Linked DNA regions of Homo sapiens: region 2 is linked to region 1. Evidence: fine-mapped expression QTL. A gene starts in region 1. The other region holds a variant in brackets. All regions are shown on one strand. Distances are between the middles of the regions. Region 1 holds the start of CRTC1 (CREB regulated transcription coactivator 1). Region 2 overlaps CRTC1 (CREB regulated transcription coactivator 1).

Evidence for each region.
Region 2: its variant is fine-mapped to the expression of CRTC1 in whole blood (INTERVAL, PIP 0.94).

The regions. Positions count from the first base shown.
Region 1 is chr19:18,676,991-18,693,266 of GRCh38, reverse strand. It overlaps CRTC1 (CREB regulated transcription coactivator 1), which reads right to left and starts at 9,587. Exons shown (of 14, transcript NM_015321.3): 1 at 9,439-9,587. The coding sequence starts at 9,564. RefSeq lists a silencer at 9,598-9,687 and an enhancer at 9,898-10,197.
Region 2 is chr19:18,740,119-18,752,510 of GRCh38, reverse strand. CRTC1 (CREB regulated transcription coactivator 1) reads right to left here. Exons shown (of 14, transcript NM_015321.3): 2 at 9,485-9,601; 3 at 6,551-6,688; 4 at 5,397-5,458; 5 at 2,636-2,730. Among named protein-coding and RNA genes, the nearest start is that of COMP, 45 kb to the left of the region's middle. RefSeq lists an enhancer at 2,405-3,388. The variant C/T (reference allele first, on the strand shown) is at 4,567.

The DNA of each region.
Region 1 (16,276 bases):
CAGGTGCACACCACCACACCTGGCTAATTTTTGTATTTTTAGTAAAGACAGAGTTTCACTATGTTGCCCAGGGTGGTCTCGATCTCTTGACCTCGTGATCTGCCCACCTCGGCCTCCCAAAATACTAGGATTACAGGTGTGAGCTACCATACCCGGCCGAAAAATGAATTTCTTTTTTTTTTTTTTTTTTTTGAGACGGAGTCTCGCTCTGTCGCCCAGGCTGGAGTACAGTGGCACTATCTTGGCTCACTGCAACCTCCACCTCCCAGGTTCAAGCGATTCTCCTGTCTCAGCCTCCCGAGTAGCTGGGACTACAGGCACGTGCCACCATGCCCAGCTAATTTTTTGTATTTTTAGTAGAGACAGGGTTTCACCATGTTAGCCAGGATAGTCTCTATCTCCTGACCTTGTGATCCGCCTGCCTCGGCCTCCCAAAGTGCTGGGATTACAGGCGTGAGCCACCGTGCCCGGCCCAGAAAAATGAATTTCTAACTGCAGAGCCACAAGTGCCATGCCTGTTCCTGAGCCAGGGACATCTGCTCCTCACCCAGCCCTGCAGCCCCTGGTTTCACACACGCTGAGGGTCCAGGAAGCCCTCCCAGATTCCCCAGAGCACGTGGACCTGGTCGCTGCACACCCTAACCACTTCTTTTTTTTTTTTTTTTGAGACAGAGTTTCACTCTTGTTGCCCAGGCTGGAGTGCAATGGCATGATCTCTGCTCACAGCAACCTCCACCTCCCAAGTTCAAGCAATTCTCCTGTCTCAGCCTCCTGAGTAGCTGGGATTACAGGTGCATGCCACCATGCCCAGCTAATTTTTGTATTTTTAGTAGAGACGGGGTTTCATCATATTGATGACGGTGAGGGAATTAATTTCTGTTTTTCATGCCCCTCACTTTGTGGTAATTTGTGACTTTAGCCAGTGGCAAGGAACCCCGGGCCTGACAGAACCTGTAGCACCAGGTAACCTTGTGGACTTCACATCAGGACAGGGCTGCAGCCGCTTGCAGATGCATAAGTCCAGCCAGCTCCAGCTGGCTCCGCAGGTTTTGTGTGGGGTTACCACCGAGGCCCGGAGTGGACCCTTCATTCAGCCCTTTTTAGTAGCAGGGGCCCTTGCTCTACACTGGATGAGACAGAGGGAGACAGCAAGAGCAGGGCCTGGGGTGGAGGATCAGGACCACAGGGTCGGGGTTGGAGTGTAGGAGCTCAGTGTTCGGGTATGGATTGTGTCCTAAGAGTGGGGGTGGGGAAGACCGAGCGCGGTGGCTCACACCTGTAATCCCAGCACATTGGGAGGCCGAGGCAGGTGGATCATTTGAGGCCAGGAGTTCGAGATCGGCCTGGCCAATAGGATGAACCCCATCTCTACTGAAAATACAAAAATTACCCAGGCGTGGTGGCAGGAGCCTGTAATCCCAGTTACTCGGGAGGCTGAGGCAGGAGGATCGCTTGAACACGGGAGAAGGAGGTTGCAGTGAGCCGAGATCACGCCACTGCACTCCAACATGGGCGACAGAGTGAGACTCCATCTCAAAAAAAACAAAAAAAAGAGGCACCGGCAGGCCCATGCTTCCTCCAGAGGCTCTAGGGGAAGACCCTTCCTATCCCTTCCAGCTTCTGGGGGCTCTGGGCATTCCTTGACTTGTGACCACATCGCTCCAATCTCTGCCTCCATTGTCACATGGTCCTCTCCCCTGTGTCTCTGTGTCCTTTCTTGTCTTTTTTTTTTTTTTTTTTTTTTGGAGAAAAGGGTCTCACTCTTTTACCCCAGCTGGAGTGCAATGGTACAATCATGGCTCACCACAGCCTTAACTCTTGGGCTCAAGTGATCCTCCCACTTCACCCTCCCAAGTGGCTGGGACTACAGGTGCACGCCACCACACCCGGCTAATTAAAAAACAATTTTTTTTCGTAGAGATGAGTTCCCTCTTTGTGGCCCAGGCTGGTCTCAAACTCCTGGCTTCAAGTTATCGTCCCATCTCAGCCTCTCAAAATGTTGGGATTACAGGCGTGAGCCACTGTGCCTGGTCCCCCTCCATCTTTTCCTTTTTCTTTTTCTTTTTTTTTTTTTTGAGACAGGATCTCACTCTGTCACCCAGGCTGGAGTGATTATAATTCACTGTAACCTCAAACTCCTGGGCTCAAACAATCCTCCTGCCTCGGCCTCTGAAAACTCTGGGATTAAAGGCATGCATCGCCACTCCCAGCCCACTCTTCTTTTTTTTTTTTTTTTTTTTTGAGACGGAGTCTCGCTCTGTCATCCATGCTCGAGCGTAGTGGCGTGATCTCGGCTCACTGCAAGCTCTGCCTCCCAGGTTCACGCCATTCTCCTGCCTCAGCCTCCCGAGTAGCTGGGACTACAGGCGCTCACCACCACGCCCAGCTAATTTTTTTGTATTTTTAGTAGAGACGGGGCTTCACCATGTTAGCCAGGATGGTCTCGATCTCCTGACCTCGTGATCTGCCCACCCCGGCCTCCCAAAGTGCTGGGATTATAGGAGTGAGCCACTGCGCCCAGCCATGGCCCACTCTTCATAAGGATACCAGTCACCGGATTTAGGGCCACCCCCCCAGGATGATCTCATCTCCAGATCCTTACCTTAATCACATCTACAGAAACCTTTTTTCCAACTAAGGTCCAATTCACGGGTTACAGGGCTAGAAGGTGAGCAGATGCTTTTTAGGGGCCACCACTCAGCCTGCTGCAGGGCATGCAGCTCACAACCTGGGGAGTACTGAGACAGCTTAGCTTTTTGGAGGGGCCTGGAGAGTGATGAGGATGAGGGCAGCTTGCCCCACCTTTTGTTCAGGGAGCAGCTCAGGGAGTCCTGCCTGTATATGGAGGCTGCGGATGGCAGCAGACAGCTGAAGCAGCCGGCACAGAAACAAATAGCGCCAAAGCCAGGACTGGGGGGCGGGCTCCACACTCAGCTAACCTGAGCCACCACTGCGCTGTGCCTGCAGCCCAGGGGCCCGTTTTACTCCAGCTTCACAGTAGGTAACAGCAGGAGAGTGCCCTCCTTCAGCCCTGACCGTGCCACCATGACTGTCTTGCCTGGGTACTTTTTCTGGCCCAGGTGTTGCTGTCTGAGGTCATCAATGATCAGTCATACGAGGAATCCCCAATGTCCTGAACCCCTGGCAAGCAGACGACACTCCCCCCTTCCCTTCCCCTCACCCCCAACATCCAATCCTCCAGCACGTCTGGGTGGCTCTGCTGCAGAAATGCCACCAAATCCACCCGCTCTGTCACCCCCTTGCTCCAGCTATCATTCCCCCTGATCTGGACACCTGCAGCGGATGCTCACACCACACCCATCCCACTCACAGCCACAGCTATCCTCCTGAGACACACGACGTCCTCAAATGGATAAATGGAGAGTTACCAGAGGACCCGGCAACTCTACTCCCCAGCACATGCTCTGAGAAATGAAGATATACATCCACCCAAAAACGTGGACAAAGATGCCAACAGCAGCATGATTCACGACAGCCAAAGGTGGAAACAACCCGTGTTCATGGCCAGATGAATGGACAAAACGGGGTAGACCCACACCATGGAATATGACATGAACTATTACTGAGCCATGCCGGTGACGGTGCACCACACTGGGAATAAACTTAATGCCACTGAATTTTATACTTAAAAAACGTCAAAATGGTAAGTGTTATATTACATATATATATATATATATATATGGCCATCAATTTTTTTTTTTGAGATGGAGTCTCACTCTGTCGCCCAGGCTGGAGTGCAGTGGCGTAATCTTGGCTCACTGCACTCCAGCCTGAGAGACAGAGCAAGACTCTGTCTCAAAAAAAAAAAAAAGAAAGAAAAAGAAAAGAAAGAAAGAAATGAAGCACTGATCCAAGTTAGAGGCTTGAAGTCACTATGCTAAGTAAAAGAAGGCAGACACAAAAGGCTTCATGGTGCAGGATTCGCCTCACTGTGTAGGATTCTATTGATATGAAATGTCCAGAACAGGCAAATCCATAGAGACAGAAACCACATTAGTTGACCAGGTGTGGTGGCTCACACCTGCAATCGCAGCACTTTGGGAGGCCAAGGCGGGTGAATCACTTGAGGTCAGGAGTTCGAGACCAGCCTGCCCAACATGGCAAAACCCTGTCTCTACTCAAAAATACAAAAATTAGCCGGGTGTGGTGGCACCTGCCTGTAATCCCAGCCACTCAGGAGGCTGAGGCAGGAGAATCACTGGAATCCGGGAGGCAGAGGTTGTAGTGAGCTGAGATTGTGCCACTGCACTCCAGACTGGGTGACAGAGCTGAGACTCTGTCTCCAAAAAAAAAGAAAGCAAGCAACCAAAGCAGATTTGTGGCTGCCAGGGGCTGGGCAAGGGGGAGTGGGAAGTAACTGTTGATGGGGACAGGGTCTCTTTCTGGGGGTACGAAATGTTCTCAAGTTGACTGGTGTTGGCTGTGCAAATGTGAATATACTAAAAGCCACTGAGTGGCGGAATGCCATGGAAATGACATCTCAATAAAGCTGTTACAAAAACAAGCGGGGCCAGGCGCCGTGGCTCACACCTGTAATCCCAGCATTCCGAGAGGCCGAGGTGGGCGGATCACCTGAGGTCGGGAGTTCAAGACCAGCCTGACCAACATGGTGAAACCCCGTCTCTACTAAAAATACAAAATTACTCAGGCGTGGTGGTGCATGCCTGCAATTCCAGCTACTTGGGAGGCTGAGGCAGAAGAATCGCTTGAACCCAGGAGGCGGAGGTTGCAGTGAGTCAAGATCGCACCACCACACTCCAGCCTGGGCGACAGGGGGGGCTCCTCCTCAAAAAAACAAACAAACAAACAAACAAACAAAACAAGCAGGGAGGCTTCCCAGACCCCTCCCTCAGGGGAGATCCAAGCTCTTGCAGCCTCACCTGCCCTCCTCCCTGCTTTCCACCCATTCTCAAACTCGCCAAGTCATTCCCACCACAAGGCTCTGACTGTGCCTGTCCCCAATCTGAAGTGCTCTTCCCTGCTCTCTGGGGATGCTGTGTCACCCCTGTCCCAGCCACTCCTAGCACGTGGCTGAGCCACTTCTCTCCCAGCGTGTGCCACCTTCTGAGGGCGTCTGCTTCATTCGGATGCATTGATGCTCTCCTGTCCCCCCTAAAACTATGCTGGCTCCCCAAGAACACAGCCCCGTATGCCCTGTACACTGCAGGAGCCCCAGCACCCCAGGCTCTTGAGACATGCCAGACAATGAAAATTGTCATTTGATGGAATGAACGCGCTGCCCCAACTTTACAACTCAGGATTCTACGGCCCAGAGGGGTTGAGAAACCCACCCAGTGTCACACAGCAGAGCGCCATAGACAGCCTGCCTGTCACGCTGACCCAAGCCTAAGAGTGGGAGGGAACGCCCACACACCCACCCCTCCGCCCCAAGACCTGCAAACAGTCTCCCGACTTTACGCCCTGTCCCCCAACCCTTCAGTGCTTGTGCCCTGGTGAGGTCCCTGTCTTCTAGCCAAACATCTGCTGACTGGCCTTCCACGGCAGCAAGACACCTCAGGTGCCATCACCACCGGCAACTGTGAACAGACACGCATGAGTGACATGCTGTCCTTTGGAATTCAAAGGAGAGGAGCAGGTGCCGACCCGATCATGCCTCACCTGGCTGCAGGTGTGGCCAAACCCCTGCTGTCTACAGTATGGGAGGCAGCGCGCCATGGCTGCAGGAGGGAAGCCCACATCATATAGGTTCATTCACCTGCTCCAGGCACGGCGGACATGCCACTTGGACTGTGCAGTGGCCAGTCAAACTGGGAATAAGCTTGCCCACCCTGGTCGCAGCCTGCCAGAGATGGCACAGCCATATAGGTGGGAGCAAAGGATGGAACTCTACCTGACCAGGTGCAAAGCTCACACCCTGGCCCACCTCACTGTTACACCTCTAATCAAAAGTTTCTCAGCCTTGGCTGGGCACAGTGGCTCATGCCTGTAATCCCAGCAATTTGGGAGGCCGAGGTGGCCGGATCACCTGAGGTCAGGAGTTCGAGACCAGTCTGGCCAACATGGTCTCTACTACAAACCCCATCTCTGCTACAAATACAAAAATTAGCCAGGCATGGTAGCAGATGCCTGTAATCCCAGCTACTCGGGAGGCTGAGGAAGGAGAATCACTTGAACTCGGGAGGCAGAGGTTGCAGTGAGCCGAGATTGCGCCACTGCACTCCAGCCTGGGCAACAGAGCAAGAGTCTATCTCAAAAAAAAAAAAAAAAAAAAAAGTTTCTCAGTCTTGGCACTGCCGACATCTGGGGCCAGATTATTCCACACGATGGGGCCATCCTGTGCACTACATGTAGGGGGTTGGGCAGCATCCCAGCCTCCACCCACCAGATGCTAGAAGCACTCCCTAATCATGATGACCCAAAATGTCTCCAGACATCACCAAGTGTCCCCTGGGGGGCAGAATCACCCCCTGCCCCAGAAAGAGAACAATGCTTTGTGTCTAAAAATCTAGTGTGAACTCACCTCTGCCCAGAGCCCATGCTCCCCTGACCCCAGGTGATGAGGAAGATGGGAAATGGTTTCCAGGGCTGAAAGAACTGCCACCTGCATATCTTCAGAATCTTGTTTTTGTTTTTGTTTTGAGATGGAGTCTCACTCTGTTGCCAAGGCTGGAGTACAGTGACACAATCTCAGCTCACTGCAACCTCCACTTCCCAGGTTCAAGCGATTCTTCTGTCTAAGCCTCCCGAGTAGCTGGGATTACAGGCATGTGCCACCACACCCGACTAATTTTTGTATTTTTAGTGGAGACGGGTTTCACCATGTTGGCCAGGCTGGTCTCGAACTCCTGACCTCAGGTCATCCACTCACCTTGGCCTCCCAAAGTGCTGGGATTACAAGTGTGAGCCACTGCACTTGGCCTCAGAATTTTTCTAAATTCATTGACTGATGAATGGATAAACAAATACAATATATCCATACAACGGAATATTACTTGACCCTAAAAAGGAACGAAGCACTGATCCATGATACTACAGAGATGAACCTTGAAAACATGACGCTGAGTGAAAGATGCCAGTCACAAAAGGCCACGTGTTGTGTGATTCCATTTATATAAAATGCCCAGAATAGGAAAACCCACAGAGACAGAAGACAGCTTAGTGCTTGCCAGGGGCTAGGGGAGGGGGAATGGGGAGTGACTGTTAATGGGGACGGGGTTTCTTTCTGGGTGGATAAAAAATGTTCTGGAATTACAAAATAGGGGTGGTTGCACAACTCTGTGAATATACTAAAAACCACCAAACTGTACACTTTAAACAAGTAAATTGTATGATGTGTGAATCATATCTCAATAAAGCTATTATTTTAAAGAGATGTTTTCAACAACAATAATCTATTTCCAATCCCACGCAGAAACTGGACTTCTAATCAGAATGACACCCATGAACCTACTGTGACCCCTTTCTTCCGGTCACACTGCAAACATTTGACAACAACTGCATGCCAGCACACACCATGTGCTGGAGACAAAAAGAAGTGGCCACTCCTGCCTCAGAAGCCCTGATATGTGGGGGACACTCACGTGGAAGGATGCTCAAGTTGCACACTTTCTTCTTATTTTCTTTTTTTGAAATGGAGTTTCACTCTTGTCACCCAGGCTGGAGTACAGTAACATGATCTCGGCTCACTGCAACCTCCACCTCCCAGGTTCAAGTGATTCTCCCACCTCAACCTCCCCAGTAGCTGGGATTACAGGTAGCTACCACCACGTCCGGCTAATTTTTATATTTTTAGTACAGACAGGGTTTCACCACGTTGGCCAGGCTGGTCTCGAACTCCTAACCTCAGGTGATCCACTGCCTCAGCCTTCCAAAGTGCTGGGATTACAGGCATGAGCCACCACACCTGGCCATTTTCTTATTTTTTTTTCATTCATTCATTCACCAGCCATCTCTTTCTCTACATCCTGAGCAAGAATGTAGCTGCTTGGAGCTGGGAGGACAGATGTGGCACACTCACCGAGCATGCCTAAAGCAGTACCTGGGTGACAGTGAGCTCCCAATCATTACCAACACAGAAATGAAGACACAAATCCTAGTCTATAAGGTCACAATCTCTCAGAGAAACAAACAACTAGTTACAAAGTAACACAGACTGAAAGTGCTACCTAAGGAATCAGAGACTGAGGTTAAGTCTACCTGAGCCAGTCACATCAGTGGCTGAATCTGGAAACCAGGGATACGAGCATCTGCAAAGCCCACCCAAACCCTCCCCAAGGCCCCAGGATGCAGGAGAGAGGTCTCACCACACTGCAAGAACAAAGTGGAGATTCAGCATCACCTTTGCAGAGTGTGCTCACCACCCTGCCCCAAGAGGAAGGTCTTGCTAGAATGCCTGACAAGAAACTGAGGCCTGAGGAACTCGGGTGCCTTGCCGTGCTCAGACACCAGCCCCAAGCCCCTGCTCCTGGCCCACAGCAACTTCCCAGGTGAGATTTGCAGGGTATCTGCTCTGCCAGACAGGAGCCTGGCAGAACCTGGCCTGCCCCTGCACACCAAATGCGCCCAGCCACCTGAGGCAGACCTGGCCCTCCACCCTGGTCCTGAGAGGGCAGGGGCTGTGGTCAGCATCCCCTGTTCCACTGGGAGGAACATCACCTGGCCCCCACCATATGGGCTACATGGAGAAGGGGCAGCTGTCTCCACTCCAAGTTCCAGGACTGAGCACAATCTGCCTTCTTGGCCCCCCTCTGGACCCCCTGGGGGACAGGATCTGACCATTCCCTCAGCTGTCCAAGAGGGAGAGATCCCTGTCCCACCTCAGCTCTGCAAGTGGGGACATCCGTTCCTCCCCCAACACCCAGGGAGTAAAGGCACAGGTAACCATGACGTAGAGACACCGGTCCCCCTCAGGTAGCAAGAATGGGAGGGCATCTGTCCCTCCCAGGTAGCAAGGATGCGGGGGCACTTGCACCCTCACCCCCAGCTACCAATGGTGCTTGCAAGCAGCACCCAGCTCATACACCTGTGTCATCCTGCCCCCCCAGGTAGCAATGATGCGGGGGCACCTGTCCCTTCCAGGTAGTAATAATGTGGGGCACCTGTCCCCCTCGGGTAACAATGATGTAGGGACACCTGTCCCCTGTCAGGTAACGACGAGGTACTAGCACCTGTTCCCTCCTAGTAGTAATGATATAGAGGCCCCTGTCTCCTCCGGGGAGCAGTGATGCAGGGCACCTGTACCCCATCAGGTATGGATTTTGTGGGGTCACCTGTCCCGCCCACGACGCCCGGGGCGTGGGGACACCTGTCCCCCTCGGGCCGTGCCAAGCCCCGCCCCCGCCGCGCGCGCCCCGCCCCCGCCGCGCCCCCCCCCACCCCGCCCCGTGCACGCGCCGGACACGCGCCCCCTCCCTCCCTCCGCCGGCCCTGAAGGGTCGGCGCGGGCAGCCCCCTTACCCGCGCGGCCCGCGTCAGGCTCAGGTCCTTCATGACCTCCTCGAAGGCCGCCGTCTCCTCCGCCTGCTTCTGATTGTGCAGCGCGATCTTCTCGCTGAATTTCCGCGGATTGTTCGAAGTCGCCATCTTCTCGCCGCCACCTCCTCCTCCTCCTCCTCCTCCTCCACCTCCTCGCCCCCCCACTCGCCCGTGCCACCGCGCAAGCGCCGGCTGGGCCCACGGGCGGCGAGCAGTGCGCAGGCGCGCCGGCGGTCGTGAGCGCGGCGCAGGCGCACAGGAGCGGCGCGCGGCGCGGGGGCGAAGGCGCATGCGCGCGCCCAGGCGCGCGCTCGGGGCCCGCGGGAAGGGCGGTGGAGCGCGAGTGGAAATTTCAACGCCGACGCAGTGATCCGCCTCCTGGCCCGCTGGACAGCGGCCTCTGGGCTGTTGGACAAGGACCGCGGATCGGCTGGGGCACTGGAGCCCCCAAGAGGGAGACGGCCTGACCCAGATCCTCCCAATTCACAAGGGTGGGGCCAGGCACCCCCCCCCGCAAGGATTGGTGGCACCCCAAGTTGAACCTGGGTTTGGACTAAGAGCTCTGAAAACAGACTAGGGCGTTGGTCACTCATGCATTCATTCATTCAAGGAATATTTACTGAGCACCTACTATGTGCCAGGCAAACTGGAGTACAGGCGTGAACAAGCAGAGGTGATCCCTGCCCTTATGGAGTGTACAGTCAGAGAGGGGGCAGACATAGCACACAAATAACCAAGAACTTTTCAGATGGAGGTAAATGTGATGCGGTAAATAAGACCAGTGGCCAGCCACAGAACATTAGGGAGGGAGGCTCCTGCAGCCACCACAGACAGGGAGGCGGAAAGTTATCTTAGCTAAGACCTGAACCCTGCAATCGGCTCTCTCAGTCCATAAACCTAGCTGTTGCCCTTAACGACTTTCTTTTTTTTTTTTTTTTTTCCCTTGAGACCGAGTTTTGCCCTTGTCGCCCAGACTGGAATGCAGTGGTGCGATCTCGGCTCACTGCAACCTCCTCCTCCCAGGTTCAAGCCATTCTCCTGCCTCAGCCTCTCCAGTAGCTAGGATTACAGGCAGGCGCCACCACGCCCAGCTAATTTTTTTATTTTCAGTAGAGACTAAAGACCATGTTGGCCAGGCTGGTCTTGAACTCCTGACAGCAGGTGATCCACCCGCCTCGCCCTCCCTAAGTGCTGGGATTACAGGCGTGAGCCACCATGTCCAGCCGACGACTACTTTTTCCCATTCCCTTGCAATGGGCATATTGCTATTCTCTGGATACCTGAGCCCAAAGAACTGGAGTTACAGAGCTTCAGCCTTCCCTCTGCATACTTCTCCAGTCCAGTCTTGTTCAAGGATCTCTATTTTGCAACAAGGTGCTAACAGAAGGGTCCAGAAATCCCATCAAGACTCAGCAGTGAAGGAAGGAGCAGAGACTCCCCCGATGGCAGAGTGGTAAGCCAGGGAAGCAGGAGGGACTCTAACCCTCCCTCCCTCAAGAGAGGGACCCCCAACCACCAATATTGAAAGTTTATATTCAGGAGGCTGCAGGGATTTCAGAGTATGGGCTGGGTGGAAGCTAGGAAGGTCAGCTGGGGGAATTGATGATGGCTCTAATGGCACAACAAGCACACATTTTATTGGACTGAGGATGGCTGGAGGGGATGCTGACATCTTCCAAACATGCTTTGATTCATGCTTTACAACAGGTAATAAAATGCTCATGTTAAATATATATATATATATATCGATTTTCATTTAGAATGCCTTGGATATTGCCACTGCCCTACTTTATCTTTGTTTTGAGACAGAGTCTCACTCTGTCGCCCAGGCTAGAGTGCAGTGGCGCAACCTTGGCTCACTGCAATCTCTGCCTCTCAGGTTCAAGCGATTCTCCTACCTCAGCCTCCCAAGTAGCTGGGATTACAGGCATGCACCATGATGCTCAGCTAATTTTTATGGGATTTTTTTTTTTTTTTTTTTTTTGAGACGGAGTCTCTGTTTCCCAGGCTGGAGTGCAGTGGCACAGACTCAGCTCACTGCAACCTCTGCCTCTGGGGTTTAAGTGATTCTCCTGCCTCAGCCTCCCAAGTAGCTGGAATTACAGGAACCCACCACCACACCCGGCTACTTTTTGTATTTTTAGTAGAGACAGGGTTTCACCGTGTTGGCCAGGCTGGTCTTGAACTTCTGACCTCAGGTGATCCGCCCGCCTCAGCCTCCCAAAGTGCTGGGATTACAGACATGAGCCACCGCACCCGGCCATCTTCCTTCTTGATATGATTTTGCGCACTTTGGTAAGCTCCTATACTTTTTGCCTAACAAGCATATTCCTTCTCTCAACCCCACCCACTCCCTCAACTTTTTAGTGTCAACAACCCTTATTTGGGGAACACTGGTTCTGACTTTCAGTCTGTGAGATGTGAATGGCTGGTCTCACCACTCTCCCACCACACAAACACCCCTCCCTAAGGTGGAAGTCTTGGCCAATCAGCATAGCCCATTGTGCTGGCCATCAAGATTGGTTCAGGCCAGGCTGGGTGTTGTGGCTCATGCCTGTAATCCCAGAACTTGGGAGGCCGAGGCAGGAGGATCATTTGAGCCCAGGAGCTTGAGACCAGCCTGGGCAACATAGCGAGATTTAATCTCCACTAAAAATAAAAAAATTACCTGCGCGTGGTGATGCCTGCTTATAATCCCAGCTACTCAGGAGGCTGAGACAGGAGGATTGCTTGAGCCTGGGAGATGGAGGCTGCAGTGAGCTATGATAATGCACTGCACTCCAGCCTGGGTGACAGAGCAAGACCCTGTCTCAAACAAACAAACAAACAAACAAACAAAAAACAGGCTGGGCGCTGGGTCATGACTGTAATCCCTACACTTTTGGAGGCAGAGGCGGGCAGAACACCTGAGGTCAGGAGTTTGAGACCAGACTGGCCAACATGGTGAAACCCCATCTCGACTAAAAATACAAAAAAAATTAGCCAGACGCGGTGGCACACGCCTGTAATTCCAGCTGCTGGGGAGGCTGAGGCAGGAAAATCACTTGAACCCAGGAGGTGGAGGTTGCAGTGAGCCAAGATAGCGCCACTTCACTCTAGCCTGGGCAACAGAGGGAGACTTTGTCTCAAAAAAAAACAAAAGATTAGTTCAGCTGGGCCAAAAGAGTGGACCCACACAGAGGAAAACAGAACCAGGCCTGGCACGGTGGCTCACAACTGTAATCCCAGCACTTTGGGAGGCCAAGGTGGGTGGATCACTTGAGGTCAGGAGCTTGAGACCAGCCTGACCAACATAGGGAAACTCCATCTCTACTAAAAATACAAAATTAGCTGGGCATGGTGGCACATGCCTCTAATCCCAGCTACTTGGGAGGCTGAGGCAGGAGAACAGCTTGAATCCAGGAGGCAGAGGTTGCAGTGAGCCGAGATCACATTACTGTACTCCAGCCTGAGCTTCTGGATCCAGCCATTCCTGAAGCTAGACTCACCTGCCTTTTAAGTTATGTAGGCCAAAAATTTATTCCCTTTTGTGCTTGTCTATTTGTTTTCTTGTTTGTTTGTTTGTTTGTTTTTTCAGACAGGGTCTCACTTTGTTGCCCAGGCTGGAGTGCAGTGGCATGATCATGCTCACTGAAGCCCCAACCCTTAGGCTCAGGTGATCCCCCCACCTCAGCCTTCCAGGTAGCTGGGACTACAGGTGTGCATCATCATGCCTGGCTAATGTTTTGTGGTTTTTGTAGAGACAGGATTCATCCTGTTGCTCAGGCTGGTCTCAAACTCCTGGGCTCAAGTGATCCGCCCCCCTCAGCCTCCCAAAGTGCTGAGATTACATGTGTGCACCACCGTGCCTGGCCTGCCTAAATCTATTTCAAGTCCTTTTTCTGTTCCTGGTTCTGACTGAGACTGCAGCTTCTGTGAGTCCAATGCGAGACTGGGCCCGCTACATATGTGGCTTCTAGTTCTTTTTTTTTTTTTTTTTTTTTTTAAACAGAGTCTCGCTAGGTCTCCCAGGCTAGAGTGCAGTGGTACGATCTTGGCTCACTGCAACCTCCGCCTCCCAGGTTCAAGTGATTCTCCTGCATCAGCCTCCAGAGTACCTGGGACTACAAGCGTGCGCCACTACGCCCAGCTAATTTTTGTATTTTTAGTAGAGATGGGGTTTCACCATGTTGGCCAGGCTGGTCTCGAACTCCTGACCTCAGATGATACTCCCACCTTGGCATCCCAAAGTGCTGGGGTTATAGGCGTGAGCCACCACGCCTGACCGGCTTCTAGTTCTTGACAGCATCCTGTGAGGTCAGAGAAGAAATAAAGACAGAGAGCAGGGACAGCAGCTGCCCTAGCAACTTATGCACCAAAACTCAGGCCTCACAGCCGACCTCAGCTGCTTTCACACACTGAGTTTTGTAGGCTTTAAATGAAGTTAGCCAGGCGTGGTGGCTCACGCCTGTAATCCCAGCACTTTGGGAGGCTGAGGCGGGCGGCTCACCTGAGGTCAGGAGTTTGAGACCAGCCTGACCAACATGGAGAAACCCCGTCTCTACTAAAAATACAATATTAGCCGGGCGTGGTGGCACATGCCTGTAATCTCAGCTACTCGGGAGGCTGAGGCAAGAGAATCGCTTGAACCTAGGAGGTGGAGGTTGCAGTGAGCCAAGATTGCGCCATTGCACTCCAGCCTGGGCAACAAAAGTGAAACTCCATCTCAAAAAAATACATAAATAAATAAATAAAATAAATGAAGTTAATAAGTGTCAACTGCCTTACTTCTAAGAAGTGCTCCGTAATTGATGCCACTTACCCTAATCAATTACATGTATCTTTTTTTTTTTTTCTTTTTTGAGACACAGTTTCGCTCTGTTACCCAAGCTGGAGTACAGTGTTGCGATCTCTGTTCACTGCAACTTCCAACCTCCGCCTCCCTGGTTCAAGCAATTCTCCTCCTACTTCAGCCTCCCGAGTAGCTGAGATTACAGGGGTGTACCACGACGCCTAGCTAATTTTTTCTTTTTTTTGAGATGGAGTTTCGCTCTGTCTCCTAGGCTGGCGTGCAGTGGTGAGATCTCGGCTCACTGCAGCCTTCACCTCCTAGGCTCAAGCGATTTTCCTGCCTCAGCCTCCTGAGTAGCTGTGACTACAGGTGTAGGCCACCACACCCGGCTAATTTTTGTATTTTTAGTAGAGACGGGGTTTTGCCATGTTGGCCAGGTTGCTTTCGAACTCCTGACCTCAAGTGATCCTCCTGGCTCGGCTTCGCAAAGTGCTAGGATTATAGGCGTGAGCCACTGCACCTGGCCCTGTAGGCTTTAAATGAAATTCGTATGTGTCAACATACGTTAATATGTTAGTATGTTAACATATGTTAATATGTGTCTCACTAAGAGGTGCTCCATAAATGCCACTTACCCTGATCACTTACATATATCTGCACTAAGCCAGTTTCCAGACACAGGAAGATGGAAGAGAAAAGATTTTGGGGACTAGCAGGGGTTACAGCAAGGAGCCATCCTGGGCATGTGCAGAAGTAAGTCTGCTGCTCTTCCTACTCACCCCCATTCACCCCGCGGCCCGCCTGGCATGAAACTTGATCCATCCTAAACCCTGGTGATGAGTCAGAGGAAGCAGCCAGCCCGCTCATTGTGCAATGGCCAGACAGCAGCCCAAGCCCCGCTTCTTGCTCCACTGACCCCCAGCCCTGAGAAGGGCGAGGCTTCAGTGTCCAGTGACCCGGGCAGAAACCAACCCTGAGGTTTTCACTTTCTTCCTTCATCAAAGGAACTTGCTGTCACCCAGTGTGGTCCAACACTGCTCCTCACAGCAGCCCTGCGGGCTTTGCAAAGCAGGGCAGATCCCACACTCCCATCGCACTTAAAAAAAAAAAAAATCTAAAGGCTTGGCGCAGTGGCTCATGCCTGTAATCCCAGCACTTTGGGAGGCAGAGGCAGGTGGGTCACCTGAGGTCAGGAGTTCAAGACCAGCCTGGCCAACATGGTGAAACCCCGTCTCTTAAAAAAAAAAAAAAATGAAAATTAGCTAGGCATGATGGTGGGTGCCTGTAATCCCAGCTACTCGGGAGGCTGAGGCAGGAGAATCGCTTGAACCCGGGAGGTGGAGGTTGCAGTGAGCCGAGATCGCACCATTGCACTCCAGCCTGGGAGACAGAGTGAGACTCCATCTCAAATAAAAAAAAAATACCCTCCTCCTGGCGGCTCCACATGCTTATGCTCGGCTCGGCTCTCGCTCCAGCCACACGGGCCTCTTCGCTGTTCCCTCTGCCTGGATTGCGCTCCTCCAAGATGCTTTCGTGGCTGGCTCCTTCTCGACTTGCAGGCCTCTGCTCTGAGAGACCCTCCTGAAGGGTCTAGCTGAAGTGGACCTCCAGCGTCTCTTCCCATGACCCAGAAACATCCCATTCTCTGAAGGCAGCTGTTTGTGCGGTCTCATCTGATCCCTTGTAGATTGAGCTGAGATTATGTTCGCCTTTCCCAAAGAGGCCAGGGCCAGGCCAGAGTTCCCTGTGTGCCTGTGGAATGTGGAAAGGGCACAGACACACGTGATTTCTTATGTGTTTTTGTTCATTCGTTTGTGCGTTTTTAAGACAGAGTCTTGCTCTGTCACCCAGGCTGGAGTGCAGTGGCGCGAACTCGGCTCACTGCAACCTCCACCTCCACACCTGTAATGTCAGCACTTTGGGGGACTGAGGTGGGCGGATCACCTGAGGTCAGGAGTTTGAGACCAGCCTGGCCAACATGGTGAAACACCGTCTCTACTAAAAATGCAAAAAAAACATTAACTAGGCGTGGTGGTGCACGCCTGTAAA
Region 2 (12,392 bases), 61 kb before region 1:
CTCACCTCTACAAAAAATAAGAAAGTTGGCCGGGTGTGGTGGTGCTCACCTGTAGTCCCAGCTATGCGAGAGGCTGAGGTGGAGGGCTCGCTTGAGCCTGAGAGGTAGAGGCTGCAGCGAGTTGTGATCATGCCATGGCGCTCCAGCCTGTGTGACAGAGCAAGACCCTGTCTCTAAAATAAAATAATATAAAACAGCAGCTCTGGAGCCTGAGGATGTGTGGATTCTGCTTCCCACAGAAGAGGCTGAACCAACGTGGGCCTCAGAGGCGTCAGGCTACAGAGAACAGCCAAGAATCTCTCCCAAGAGCAGCTGCCTAGCTTGTGTGTATATTTTTCTTTCTTTCTTTTTTTTTTTTTTTTTGAGACAGTCTTGCTCTCCCACCCAGGCTGGAGTGCAGTGGCACCTTGGCTCACTGCAACCTGCGCCTACTGGGTTCAAGAGATTCTCCTGCCTCAGCCTCAGATTATAGGCATGTGCCACCAAGCCCAGCTAATTTTTATATTTTTAGTAGAGATGGGGTTTCTCCATGTTGGCCAGGCTGGTCTCAAACTCTTGATCTCAAGCAATCTGCCCACCTCAGCCTCTCTCCCGAAGTGTTGGGATTCCAGGCATGACCCACCGCGCCTGGCCCTAGCTTGCATGTTCTGTTCCGCATCCACCACTTGATCTTGCTTCCTGCTCTGGGCTGCTGACACCCAGTGGCTGAACCTTTATTGAGCCCCCGGCACCAAGCACAGGGGTTCAGATCATGTCACTCAATGCTGATGGAGGTGGGACCAGTGCACTCATGGCAGCAGCGGCCCCGTGAGTCAGCCACAATGTCAGCCAGCCCCAGAGCAAGAAGAGGAGAGGGAGAGTCTGAGCGACGGGATGGATGGGCATCAATTGAGGCTCTGGAACCAGCCGGGCCTGAAAGTGCCTTTCCTTGGATCTTTCAGTCAAGGTAAGAGTAAACATTTCCCCATTTTCTTTTTTCTTTTGAGATAGGGTTTCACTTTGTCACCCAGGCTGGAGTGCAGTGGCGTGATCTTGGCTCACTGCAACTTCCACCTCCCAGGCTCAAACAATTCCCCCTCCTGCCTCAGCCTCCCGAGTGGCTGGTACCACAGGCACGTGCAAACACTCCCAGTTAATTTTTTTGTATTTTTGGTAGAGACAGAGTCTCACTATGTTGCCCAGGCTGGTCTCAAACTCCTGGCCTTGTGATCCACCCACCTCGGCCTCCCAAAGTGCTGGGATTGCAGGCGTGAGCCACCACACCCAGCCCATTTCCCCATTTTCTTTATGCCTGTTGCACATTTCATTTTTTTTACTTGTAACTGGGAGACCCACGATGAGCACAGCCAGATAGGCCAACCCCTTCCTTGTTGAAAGCCAGGCTGCGAGGAGGCAGCCAGGCCAACCCCAGCCCTGTCACCACCTCAGGCGCTCCGAGGAGAGTGGGGATAGATGATGTGTCCCTGCCAGGCCCCCACTCCAAGGCCACCAGGGGTCCCATGTCACAGCTCCTTTCCCAGGTTACAGTGTTCCAGGGGATGGTGACATCCTGTTGCCCACCCCTCGGACGTGCTGTCTGTGGGGACCTAGTAGGACAGGCAGCAGCCTCAGAACAGCCTGCTCATTAGGAATAGCAGGGAAGCCCCAGGCACTGTGCTATCCTCAGCACCCCTGGGTGTTCCAGAAGCCTCATTTTCATTATGGAGACATTCTCTTCTCCCTCCCGTCTCTGCTGCACGCTGAGCCGGAACCCCGGAGTGAGGTTCTGGCCAACAGTCCTCCTCCTCCTCCTCTTCCTCCTCCTATCAGCAGAATCTCCCTTGCGTGTTAACCACCCACTCGGTGAACGGCAGCAATACAAGCATAGGTATGTGAGCCCTAAGCACGTGCAACTCCCTGGCTTCAGTGCCTTGGGCCACACCAGGTTCCCTGGGGCTGGCCTCAAGCCTCCAAGCTCCCTTCTCTGATGGCACCGCCCCAGTTTTTAAGACAGCATATGCCCTCCTTGAAGGTTCCCAGGGTGCCGCCTCCACGCCCGGCTTCAAATTGGAGCCAAGGACCTGGGTACAGATCTGTCCCCGCCACAGGGGTGTGCATGGCTCAGCTGGAGGCGACACTCTGGCCAAGAGTTGGGAAGAGATGGCCTCTTTCTCACTCGCTATAGCTAGGACGGGCCCAGGGGCTGCAGGCGAGGAGAGTTCTCAGCAGCAGAGCCAGGAAACAGTCCAGTGGGAAGCAGTGGAAGGAGCTGAACCTGTGGCTAGAAGTCGACCCCTGGCCTGCTCTGTCATGAGCTGACAAATGCTCCTTTGCGTGGGCTTGCTGCCGCTACATTTGAAACCAGCATCTGTGCAGCACCCAGACTTCATGGCCACGCCCTCAATCCAGGAATGGGAGCCAACGTGCGCCTGCAGGGTTGTTTTCTCTGCCTAGAAAACTCCTATGCACTCTTCAAAATCCAACTTAAGTAGCACCACCTCTGAAAGTTTCCGATCCCCTCCCCCGATCCCTCAGCATGGTCTGAGTCTTCCTTTGAAGAGCCATCTGCCCACAAGCTTGTGACCTCCTGGAGAACAGGGGTTACCTGCTGGACTTGCCTCACCCCAGCAGAGACACCCGAGTCCCCTGTCCATACCTCTTTTCTGGTGCACGTCCTGGGACCCACTGCTAAAGGATTCTGGCTGCGTGGGCGTCATTGTGCTCTGGTGCAGGGCGGAGTCAGAATTGGTCCTGGTGGGGAGGGAGGAAGAGACAATGAGCCTCAGCCCAAGGCAGACAATGCGATAGTCCTGATCCCAGCTGGGACACGCTGGATGGACAGGGTGGCAGCTGTGGATCATTTTTGTGAGCTGCTGCACCTGAGCAAAGCTCTCGGGACCTCATTCTAAAAAGAGCCACCAGAGTGACTGCGGTGTTCATCTGCAAAGCTCGTGAAAAACAAAAAGCAGCCGCGCGAGGTGGCGCACGCCTGTGGTCCCAGCGACACAGGAGGCTGAGGTGAGAGGATCACTTGAGCCCAGGAATTCAAGACCAACCTGGGCAACAGAGCAAGGCTTCTTGGCTTTGGGGAAAGGACAGTGCCCTCCTGCTGAAACCTCCCAAAGAAGGAGCCCCACAGGTGCCCAGCCTTGGGGTATGAGCCTCCAGTCTGTCACCAGGTCCCCTCTTGGTGACAAACACAATCAGGTGACTGTGCCCTCTAGGATGCTCAGTGTCACACAAACCCAGTGTGACAGGTGGAATGGGCTAGGAGAAGGCCCCGGAAGGAATGAAGCCACTTAGAGGCCCCCGTGGTTGGGAAGCCAACCTGAGGCAGGAGGTCTTGCTTCAACTAGCCCAGGAGAGGCTCTTCCCTCTACCTCCAGGGACCGCATTTCCCTCTAGGAACTGATGGGGAGAAAGCACAAGGCCACCCAATCTGCTCCTGGCTGCAGGTGCCTCAAGAGTGGGTCCCCAGAAAGCCTCCTTGGCTGCCAGGCAAAATGTGGGTACAGCCACCACCAGCTATGTGTCTCTGAGCAAGTGTTTTGACCTCTCTGTGCTCAATTTCCTCATGTCTAACACGGACTACAATGGAGATGAACACACTGCCCACTCCATAAAGCTCCATTCATTTTATATAAGTTAATGAATGTGATGGTGGGAACAGGGCCTGACCTATGATACGGGCTTGGTGAGAATTTAATATTGTAGTATACATATATATTTTGAACAGCTTGCTTACTTTTCTTCCGTTTACTAACATGTGTGTGTATGTGTGTGGTGTGTGTGCGTGTGTATGTATGTATATGGTTTTTCTTTTTTTTTTTTTGAGACAGGGTCTCACTCTGCCCCCCAGGCTGGTGTACAGTGGCATGATCATAGCTCACTGCATCCTCAACCTCCCAAGCTCTAGTGATCCACCCGCCTCGGCCTCCCAAAGTGCTGGGATTACAGGTGTGAGCCACTGTGCCTGTTATATATATTTCTATTGTAGTAAAATATATATAACAGCCAGGCACAGTGGCTCATGTCCTGTAATCCCAGCACTTTGGGAGGCCGAGATGGGTGGATCACTTGGGCCCAGGAGTTTGAGACCAGCCTGGGTAACGTGGCAAGATCTTGTCTCTCCAAAAAAAAAAAAAAAAAAAAAAAAATCAGCTGGAAGCAGAGGTGGGACGATTCAGTCTGGGAAGTCGAGGCTGCAGTGACCTGTGATCGCGCCATTGCACTCCAGCCTCAGTAACAGAGTGTGACCATGTCTCAGAAAAAAAATTATATACACACACACGTTTGTATACATATGTATGTAAATATGTGTGTATATATGTATAGTTTTAACTGTTTTTGAGTGTATAGTTCTGTGACATTAAGTACATTCACATTGTTGTACAACCATGATCTATATTATTGTATGTTTTTATATTAACTATATTATTGTTATTTTAGGCCTTGGAGACAGGGTCTCGCTCTGTGGCCCAGGCTGGACTGTAGTGGCATGATTACAGCTCACTGCAGCCTTGACCTCCTGGGCTCAAGCAATTCTCCCACCTCAGCCTCCCGAGTAGCTGGGAGTACAGGCGTGCA[C/T]TACTACATCTGGCTAATTCTCTCATTTTTTGTAAAGATGGGATCTTTCTATGTTGTTCAGGCTGGTCTTCAACTCCTGGGTTCAACTGATCGCCTGCGTTGGTCTCCAAAAGTGCTGGGATTACAGGCGTGAGCCACTGTGCCTGGCCTGTATTTTTCCTAATCTTCCATCCTAAATGTGTTAATATAATTTTATCATCACATTTTTAATGGCTGTTGAGTAACATGGGTACCTGCTCTGAATACAGCATTAAATAGGAAAGAGCAAGCTACAGTGCTGAATATGCGGTATCGTCCCACTTTCTTTTTCTTGCGATGGAGTCTCACTCTGTCACCCAGGCTGGAGTGCAGTGGCTCGATCTTGGCTCACCGCAACCTCCGCCTCCCGGGTTCAATTATCCCGCCTCAGCCTCCTGAGTAGCTGGGGATTACAGGCATGCGCCACCATGCTGGCAAATTTTTGTATTTTTAGTAGAGACGGGGTTTCACCATGTTGGCCAGGCTGGTCTCAAACTCCTGACCTCAAGTGATCCGCCTGCCTCGGCCCCCCAAAGTGCTGAGATTACAGGCCTGAGCCACCACTCCTGGTCCCACTTTTGTTTTTGTCTTTTTTTTTGTCATAAGTGGGGGGAAGGGAAATGTTAGAAGACCTCCCAAAGCTGGAACTCCTGTGTTTCAGGGTGAAGGCTAATTTCTAGAAACTTCTGGATGCATCTTAGTTTGGTCATTGTTTAAGCGACTGTGTCCTGCTTTTCCACATGTAACCATGATGAGAGTTTGGTTTTGTTTCCAACAAGAAGGGGGCGGGGGGGGGGTGTCCAGCCACTGACCTTCTCCAGCTGGTGTCCGCGGGTGGTGAGAGGTACATGGTGCCATAGGGGCAGCTGTCGGCGTGAGGTGAGTTAAGGGGGCAGTGCCACTGGCTGAGACCCCGCCTCCAACAACACACTCTCAGCCCAGGGCAGGAAGCCCCGGCTGGCTGGCTGGGGTCGGCCTGAGGCCTGCAAACAGCTGGGACCAGTAGGGCGGGGGGCGTTTCCTGCCGGCCTTTCCTGCCTGGCTACAAGCAGCCCCCGTTCCAGGGGCTCTCCAGGGGTACAGCCCTGTCCACCTAGCACTCAGCACTCTGCTCCGTGAGCACACGTGCGGGCTGCACCCCTTCCAAGGGAGGGGGTTCTGGGCTGTGAAAGTAGGGCCTGTGGGGACGCTGTGGAGTCTGAGTTCAGCTGACCCTGGTCTGGACTCTCCATCCTGGGCTGACGGGGTGGCTCCTGGGGCCCAAGGGCTCAGTCTGGGGCCCAGCTGGTCAAGCTCCCCCAGCCCACGGAAATGAGAACCGGAGAACAAGCTTCTCTGTTCTGGAGAGCCGGGGGATCCCGGGAGCAACCTGAGGCCGCTCAGACTCTGGTGTTGTGGGGCCCGGCTGGCTGAGCACCAAGGGGCGGCTGAGTTGGGGGGGAGGGGGGGACTCTGGCTGATCTCTGCGTGACCGAGTCGCAGAGGCGAATTTTACTCCTGTCTTACAGAGATGGAGCCTCCCTTGGATGCGTCCGGGTCTCACACAGACCCCCTTAGCCCCATTGCCTTGGCTGGGCTGCCCTCCGTGCAGCGCGTAGGAGAGGCCTCATCAGCTCACAGCCCTGACTGTGGGCTCCCTGCTCACGGCCTTCCTGGCCCCACTGCCCTGCCAGGTGTCTAAGCCCTCTGTGGTCAGGTATAACCTTCCTCAACTCCTGCCTTGAGAGCTGTTCCCTGTGCCCCTTGAGCCCCCAAGTCTGGCCAAAGGCTCCAGGGCTTGTGGCACAGCCTCCTCCAGGAAGTCCCCCAGGCTGCCCTGAGATCAAGCCTCCCAGATGGTGCTGCCCTGATTCTGTCCCCAGAGCTGGAAGCAGGCAGCCCTGTCAGAACCTGCTGGGTAAACTTGGGGTCCTGCCGGCACCGACAGGGCCTGGCCCCCACCCTCATCCTCTGGTGAAAAGGATATCTGCCGTCCGTGTTTGTCCACTGACAGGGGCCGGCGGTGTGGGGAGCCGAGCCGGCCACGCTCCCGGTACACCCTGTCCACCAGCCCATGGTGCCGGGTGGTCCGGCTGGTGTCCAGGCCCGAGGATTGGAAGGGGGTCTGGGGGAGGAGGAGATGGAAACAGAGAGAGAGAAATCCAAACAATGGTTACCAGCTGTGGCCCCAGCGCTGGCCCCAGAGTCTGATCGCAGGGCCCCCCACTCTGGAGCACCCTCGGCCATCGCTCCACAGCCTGGGATGGGCTTCTTCCTTCAGCCCCAGCTCCCTGGCTCTCCAAGCACTGGGGGGTAGGGAGGGGGTGTGAGCTGGGGTCCCGGGAGCCAGGGTGGCAGGGGCGTGCAGTGCAGCTGGCATGCACAGGCCAGGCAGAGCGGCACAAGCTCGGGGCCAGCGCCCGCCGGGTGCCAGGGATGTAGCCGGCCTAGGCAGCCCTCCTCCCCAGTCTCACCAGGTGCAGACAGGCCTCCGCCCTCTCTCTCCGGGCCTGGACGGCCTCCTACCCCCACCTACGTCATCCCTGGAGGGGCCTGCCAAGAGACAGCCCAGGGGCTTCCAGCCCAGGACTGTTTCGGGGCCCACCTGGCCAAGCGCGAGTTCCTGGGAGGCTTCCTTGTGGAGCCCAGGGCTGCTCTTGATTGAGACGCGGCCCCCACACACCCTCCCCCGCAGCCTCCTCCAGGCACTCCAGGCACCACCAGAGCCAAGTACAGGCGCCTTCCGGAGCCATGGCCCACTGCTTGGCTGGATGGGGCTTCCTCCCAGCACCTGGGGCTGGCACCAGGCTGGCCCTCCCCAGGCCCTGCTACATGCCCGGCCTCATGCCCCCGGGGCTGCCAGGAGCCCGCCCTGACCCTGTGTTGCCCACTTGCCATCTGACTGGGGTGAGATCAGCAGGCTCTGCCAGCTTTGGATGCAGCCAATCCCCCAGTCCGGCCATCTGGCCCCTGAGCCCTTATGCCTTCTCTGGGCAGCCGGGCAAAATGAGACTCTGATACTAAAGTGAGTCTCCTCTCCAGAAGCCTGTCCATGGCTAGGATTGCTGCTTTGTCCCAGCCTCGGCCAGAGTTCAGGGCTGACTACTGTCCCCAGCCCTGGGGACCCCCAAGTCTTTCTTCGATCCAGCATGAACTCTGCTGGTTTGGGTCTTTCCGTGGCTCTTGCCCCCAAAAGGCTGTGGGCATGGGAGACGTGGGCCTGTGACGATGAGGGTGGGAACTGTGCTGTCCAGTGCACAGGCTCCTCAGGGTAGGGGCAATTCATCTCCTTCCAGAGATGCCTTGAAGCCCAGAGGGAAACTGAGGCAGCCAAAGCCAAGTCAGAGGCAGAATGAAGCGGGGGCTGGCCACACCCGGGCTCGCCACGTCCTGCCTGCTGGCCTGGTTTGGGAGATGCGTGCACACGTGTGTGTATGTGTGTGTGTGTGTGTGTGTTTGTGTGTGTGTGTATATAGGGACGGACCATGCAGCTTTGGGGCACATGCTGGGATTCTGCTCTGCTGGACCCCAGATGGGGATGCGCGGCTATGGCATCTGCCCCAGATGGACCCCAAGAGTCCCCAGGGCCTCTCGACGCGACCATACGCACTTCCCGAGATGGGGGTGCGGAGTGGATCCATTTCCATTTGGCGGACGGGACACCTCCACCTCCCTGGGAGCCGCAGGGGCGGCCGCTTGGGGAGCTCAGGGATCCCCAGCGCCCGCACACGGGTCGGGGTCTTGCAGGCTGGCGCCGGGGACGCCGCGGCCTCAGCCTGGGGGCTCATTTACCAGAGAGACAGGAGCCGCTGCCAGGGCCTCCCCCAGAAATCCGCTGGGCTGAAAATGCAAAGAACCGAGACTTTGAGACGCTGCTGCCTTGCCTGGCCCCAAAGGCGGGATGCGTGGGACCTCCCCCCGGGCTGTGGGCCTCGGGCGACAGACACCCAACAGGGTCCTGTGCCCCTCAGCCCCACTCAGGCTGAGCTTGCAAGGTGCCCAGAGAGAGACTCTCCTCCAGGGAAGAGGGGACAGGAGAAACAGGAAAGGGAGAGAAGGGCAGGAGGGGAGAAAACCTGGCCAGGAAGGGCTGTGACAAAGAACACGCCCAGCATCAGTGATGGCCCGCACTCTGTATGCCGGAGGAGGCGCACCGTGGTGGCCAGCCCAAGGATCCCTGCCCTGTCCAGCGGCGGTGCAGGTGGCGGTGGAGCTGGTGGGTGACTTGGGAGGGGCCCCGGCTCCATCTGGCCTGTCAGTGGCCATGGCTGTGTCCGAGGTGGTTTTCTCAGCCACAGAGTAGGTGTGACCCCCCCCCAGGGGGACCTGTCCATGCAGAGCCCAGACACCGTCCTGGGGGTGGCCCTGATTCATAGGCCAGCTCCCTCGGCCCCACCCCATCCCCATCTCCACCCGCAGACCAGGGACAGGGAAGAGGGCCGCTGTGGGCCTTATCTCCTGTTTACGATAAGGCTGTGCACGGCGGCTGTGCGGCCTGCGGGAGCCGCGCTGTGTGGGCCTCTGCCAAGAAACGTTTGCAGACAAGTGGGGTCAGGCCGCCGGGCCTCCTTCTGAGAATTGCTGGGCTTGCGGATTAGTGAGGCAGGACAGAGCCAAGCCCCAGTGGCCCCGAGCGGTTCCCGCTGCCGCACAGCCGGCCAACAGGTGTAGCGGCTGCCGAAATGCTGGAGGCCAGATGGAGGGCTCGCCTCGGGGTCTGCTGATGGGGAATGGGCTGCGGGGGCACCCTGGTGGGGCCACTCTGCTTCCTCTGGTTCCCAGGGCAGACAAGGAGAAGGCAGTGGTTGGGTGGGCTCCGCCAACTGTCTGATAACCCCAGCTGTCCTCAATGTCTGGCCCCCAGTGGGAGGCTGGGGGAAGCTCCCCACAATGGGGCAGGGCCAGGGGGCGGGGCACTCACCTGGAAGGGCAGGTCCATGGTGCCACTCCCGATCTGGTTCACGTTGGGCAGGGACCCGCCATAGTACTGGCCTCGGCTGGGGCCCAGTTGCAGGTACTGGGATTTCTGGAGCTGGAGCTGCGAGAGAGAAGCCAGCAGCTGCGGGAGGGGTCACCTCCCAGGCTCACCTCAGAGTGCCAGCCCCAAAGGCACAAAAAGACCCAAGTGGTGGGATTGACAGCCTAAGTGCAGAAGTTTGCAGGACCTCATGACCCAGATGCTTAAGGAAACCAGGTGTCCCTCCACCAAAAATGGCAGAATCAGAAACCCGAGGTGCCGGGACGGCTCCCCAGGCGGGGCAATGCACCATGCAGAAACCCATGACCGTGAACCTGGGGAGCTGGCTGCCTTGCTGCTGATTCGGTCAGTCAGTGAATGGGCAAGAGAGGCACTGGCGGGCCTGCAGCCTGCCAAGGAGGCCCCTCACCAGCCCAGGGGAGCCATTTCTTATCACGGCCAGAGGCTGTGACTTGGCAGGCCAGGCGGCTTCCCACTGGCCTGAATCGGAGGAAGCTGTCTCAGAAGCGTGGTGATGGCCTTCAAAGCGTGGGACTTGTGATCCCGACGGCAGCCCACACAGAGCCAGGGCAGCCAAGTCAGTCCCCCAGACCCAGCTTGAGTTCTAGAGGGTCCTGAGCCCCATGTTCCTTCCTCATGGTCCTTCCCAGCCTCTTGGGGGCTGGGCCCAGCTGAGCGCCTTCATCTCAGCTGCATCCCTGCTTCCCACTCCCTGATGGCATCGGGGCACAGAACCAGGGGCCAGGAGCTCCCTGATGGGTCACGCTGACTCTGAACAGGGCTGGAAGCTGGCCTCCTCCCCTTCATGTGGCTGATGCTGATTTGCCAGTAACAGAGGCCCCTGACCCATGTGGCACGACCCGAGGCCCTTGGGGATGCTGGTCCATGATGCCTGCCATGCAACTGGGGGAGGCAGCCACCGTGAGGAGAGGTGGGGCTGGGCAGGCAGGAAGGAGGGGTGGTTGTCCACTCTGGCCCGGCAGGGGCGGTTGCTAGGGTGGACACTGTGTACACAACAAGGCCGACTCGTTCCTTACAAACAGCTCCTGGCAGTGCGTGGAGAGCTGGCTGCCCCACCGCCCCAGCTTCCTAGGGGGCCCTGGACACCGGAGGCGGAAGTAAAGCCCGGGAACTGGCCACCTGCCCGGCTGAGCACCTCGCCCAGGTAAACAGCTGTTTCCTGTGAGCTGAAGTGGAGCCGATGGTAAGATTAACCTTGTGTGTTATTGGGTGGCTCTCGAGGGCCTGGGGGTGAGGCCCAGGGTCTGTGCTGGGAGCCCTTGGTGGCCGCTGGCCAGACACATACACAATGAACATCCACAGTGTCCCTCCCAGCAGTCACACCAGATGAAACAGGCCAGCTCCGGGCTGTGGCAGAGGGAGGGGGTGTAGGGTGGGGGTCCTACAGCTCCCACCCCACACCTACCTGGGCATAGGTCGCCTGTGGCCTCCCGTGACTTTCTCCACCCTCTTCTGTGTCCAAGTAGCATGACAGAAACCTGTGCTACATTCACCTCTCACTGACTATATGGCCCTAAAGGCTGTGACCCCTCCTGGACCTGTGTCCCCGACCTAGAGTGAGTGCTACAGGCGGGTGTGAGAGGGACACACGACGTGTGACACAGCAGGTACTCATGCCACATGTGCTTTCTACACGGGCTGAGCTGCCAGCTCCCAGGAGGCCAGACATCAGGGGCAAGAACTCCCTGAAGCAGCTTTGTTTACACTATGTCCCCGGGCCACAGGAAACCTGGGATGCGGGGACAATCTACAGGACTGGGGACACACAGAACTCTCATGGTTCCCAAGCCCCATCTCTGTCCAAACCTTGCCCACAATTCCCAGCTCCTGTCCACTTTGCTGGAGGCACTCAGGCTTCGGAGCACAGCCCCTGGGCCAGGAGTGGACACTGAGTGGGGACTCTGCTTTTCTTTTTTGTTGTTGTTGTTGTTTGTTTGTTTTTTTGAGATGGAGTCTCGCTCTGTTGCCCAGGCTGGAGTGCAGTGGCGCCATCTTGGCTCACTACAACCTCCATCTCCCAGGCTCAAGTGATTCTCCTGCCTCAGCCTCCGAACTAGCTGAGACTACAGGCACCATGCCTGGCTAATTTTTTTTTTTGTATTTCTAGTAGAGACAGAGTTTTTCACCATGTTGCTCAGGCTGGTCTCAAACTCCTGACCTCAAGTGATCCACCCGCCTCGGCCTCCCAAAGTGTTGGGATTACAGGAATGAGTCACCGCGCCTGGCCTCTGCTCTTCTTTTGGGGAACCCCATGCTCATTCTTGGTTTTGCATGAGGAGTTGTACAGCAAAAGGGTTAAGCTGGCCCCAAGAGAGGTCTGACCTTTGTCCCCAGCTCCTGGGAGGTGACCTGCAGGAGAATATCCTGCCTGATAAGAGTGTCATTGTGTGCCTGAGGCCTTGGGCTATGGCAGAGTCTGCTCACACTGTGGTTTTAGGGTGGGAGTTTGGGCACATCAGCTTGACATCTGGAGGGACTAGAGACAGGTTGGCCATGAGGGTGGTCAGCCACGTCTACAGGACCAGCCCCCAGTACAGACCCTGGACATGCAGGCCAGGGGAGCTTCTGCGGCTGGCAGTGCTCCATGCTGGGAGAATTACGCACTGTTCACATGAGGGGCTGACTGGAGGTTCTGGCCTGGTTTCTCCTGGACCCTGCCCATCTGCCTCTTCCCTTGGGTGATTTTTTTTTTTTTTAAGATGGAGTCTAGCTCTGTCATCCAGGCTGGAGTGCAGTGGCACTATCTCGGCTTACTGCAACCTCCACTTCCAGGGTTCAAGCGATTCTCTCACCTCAGCTTCCTGAGTAGCTGGGATTACAGGTATGCAAC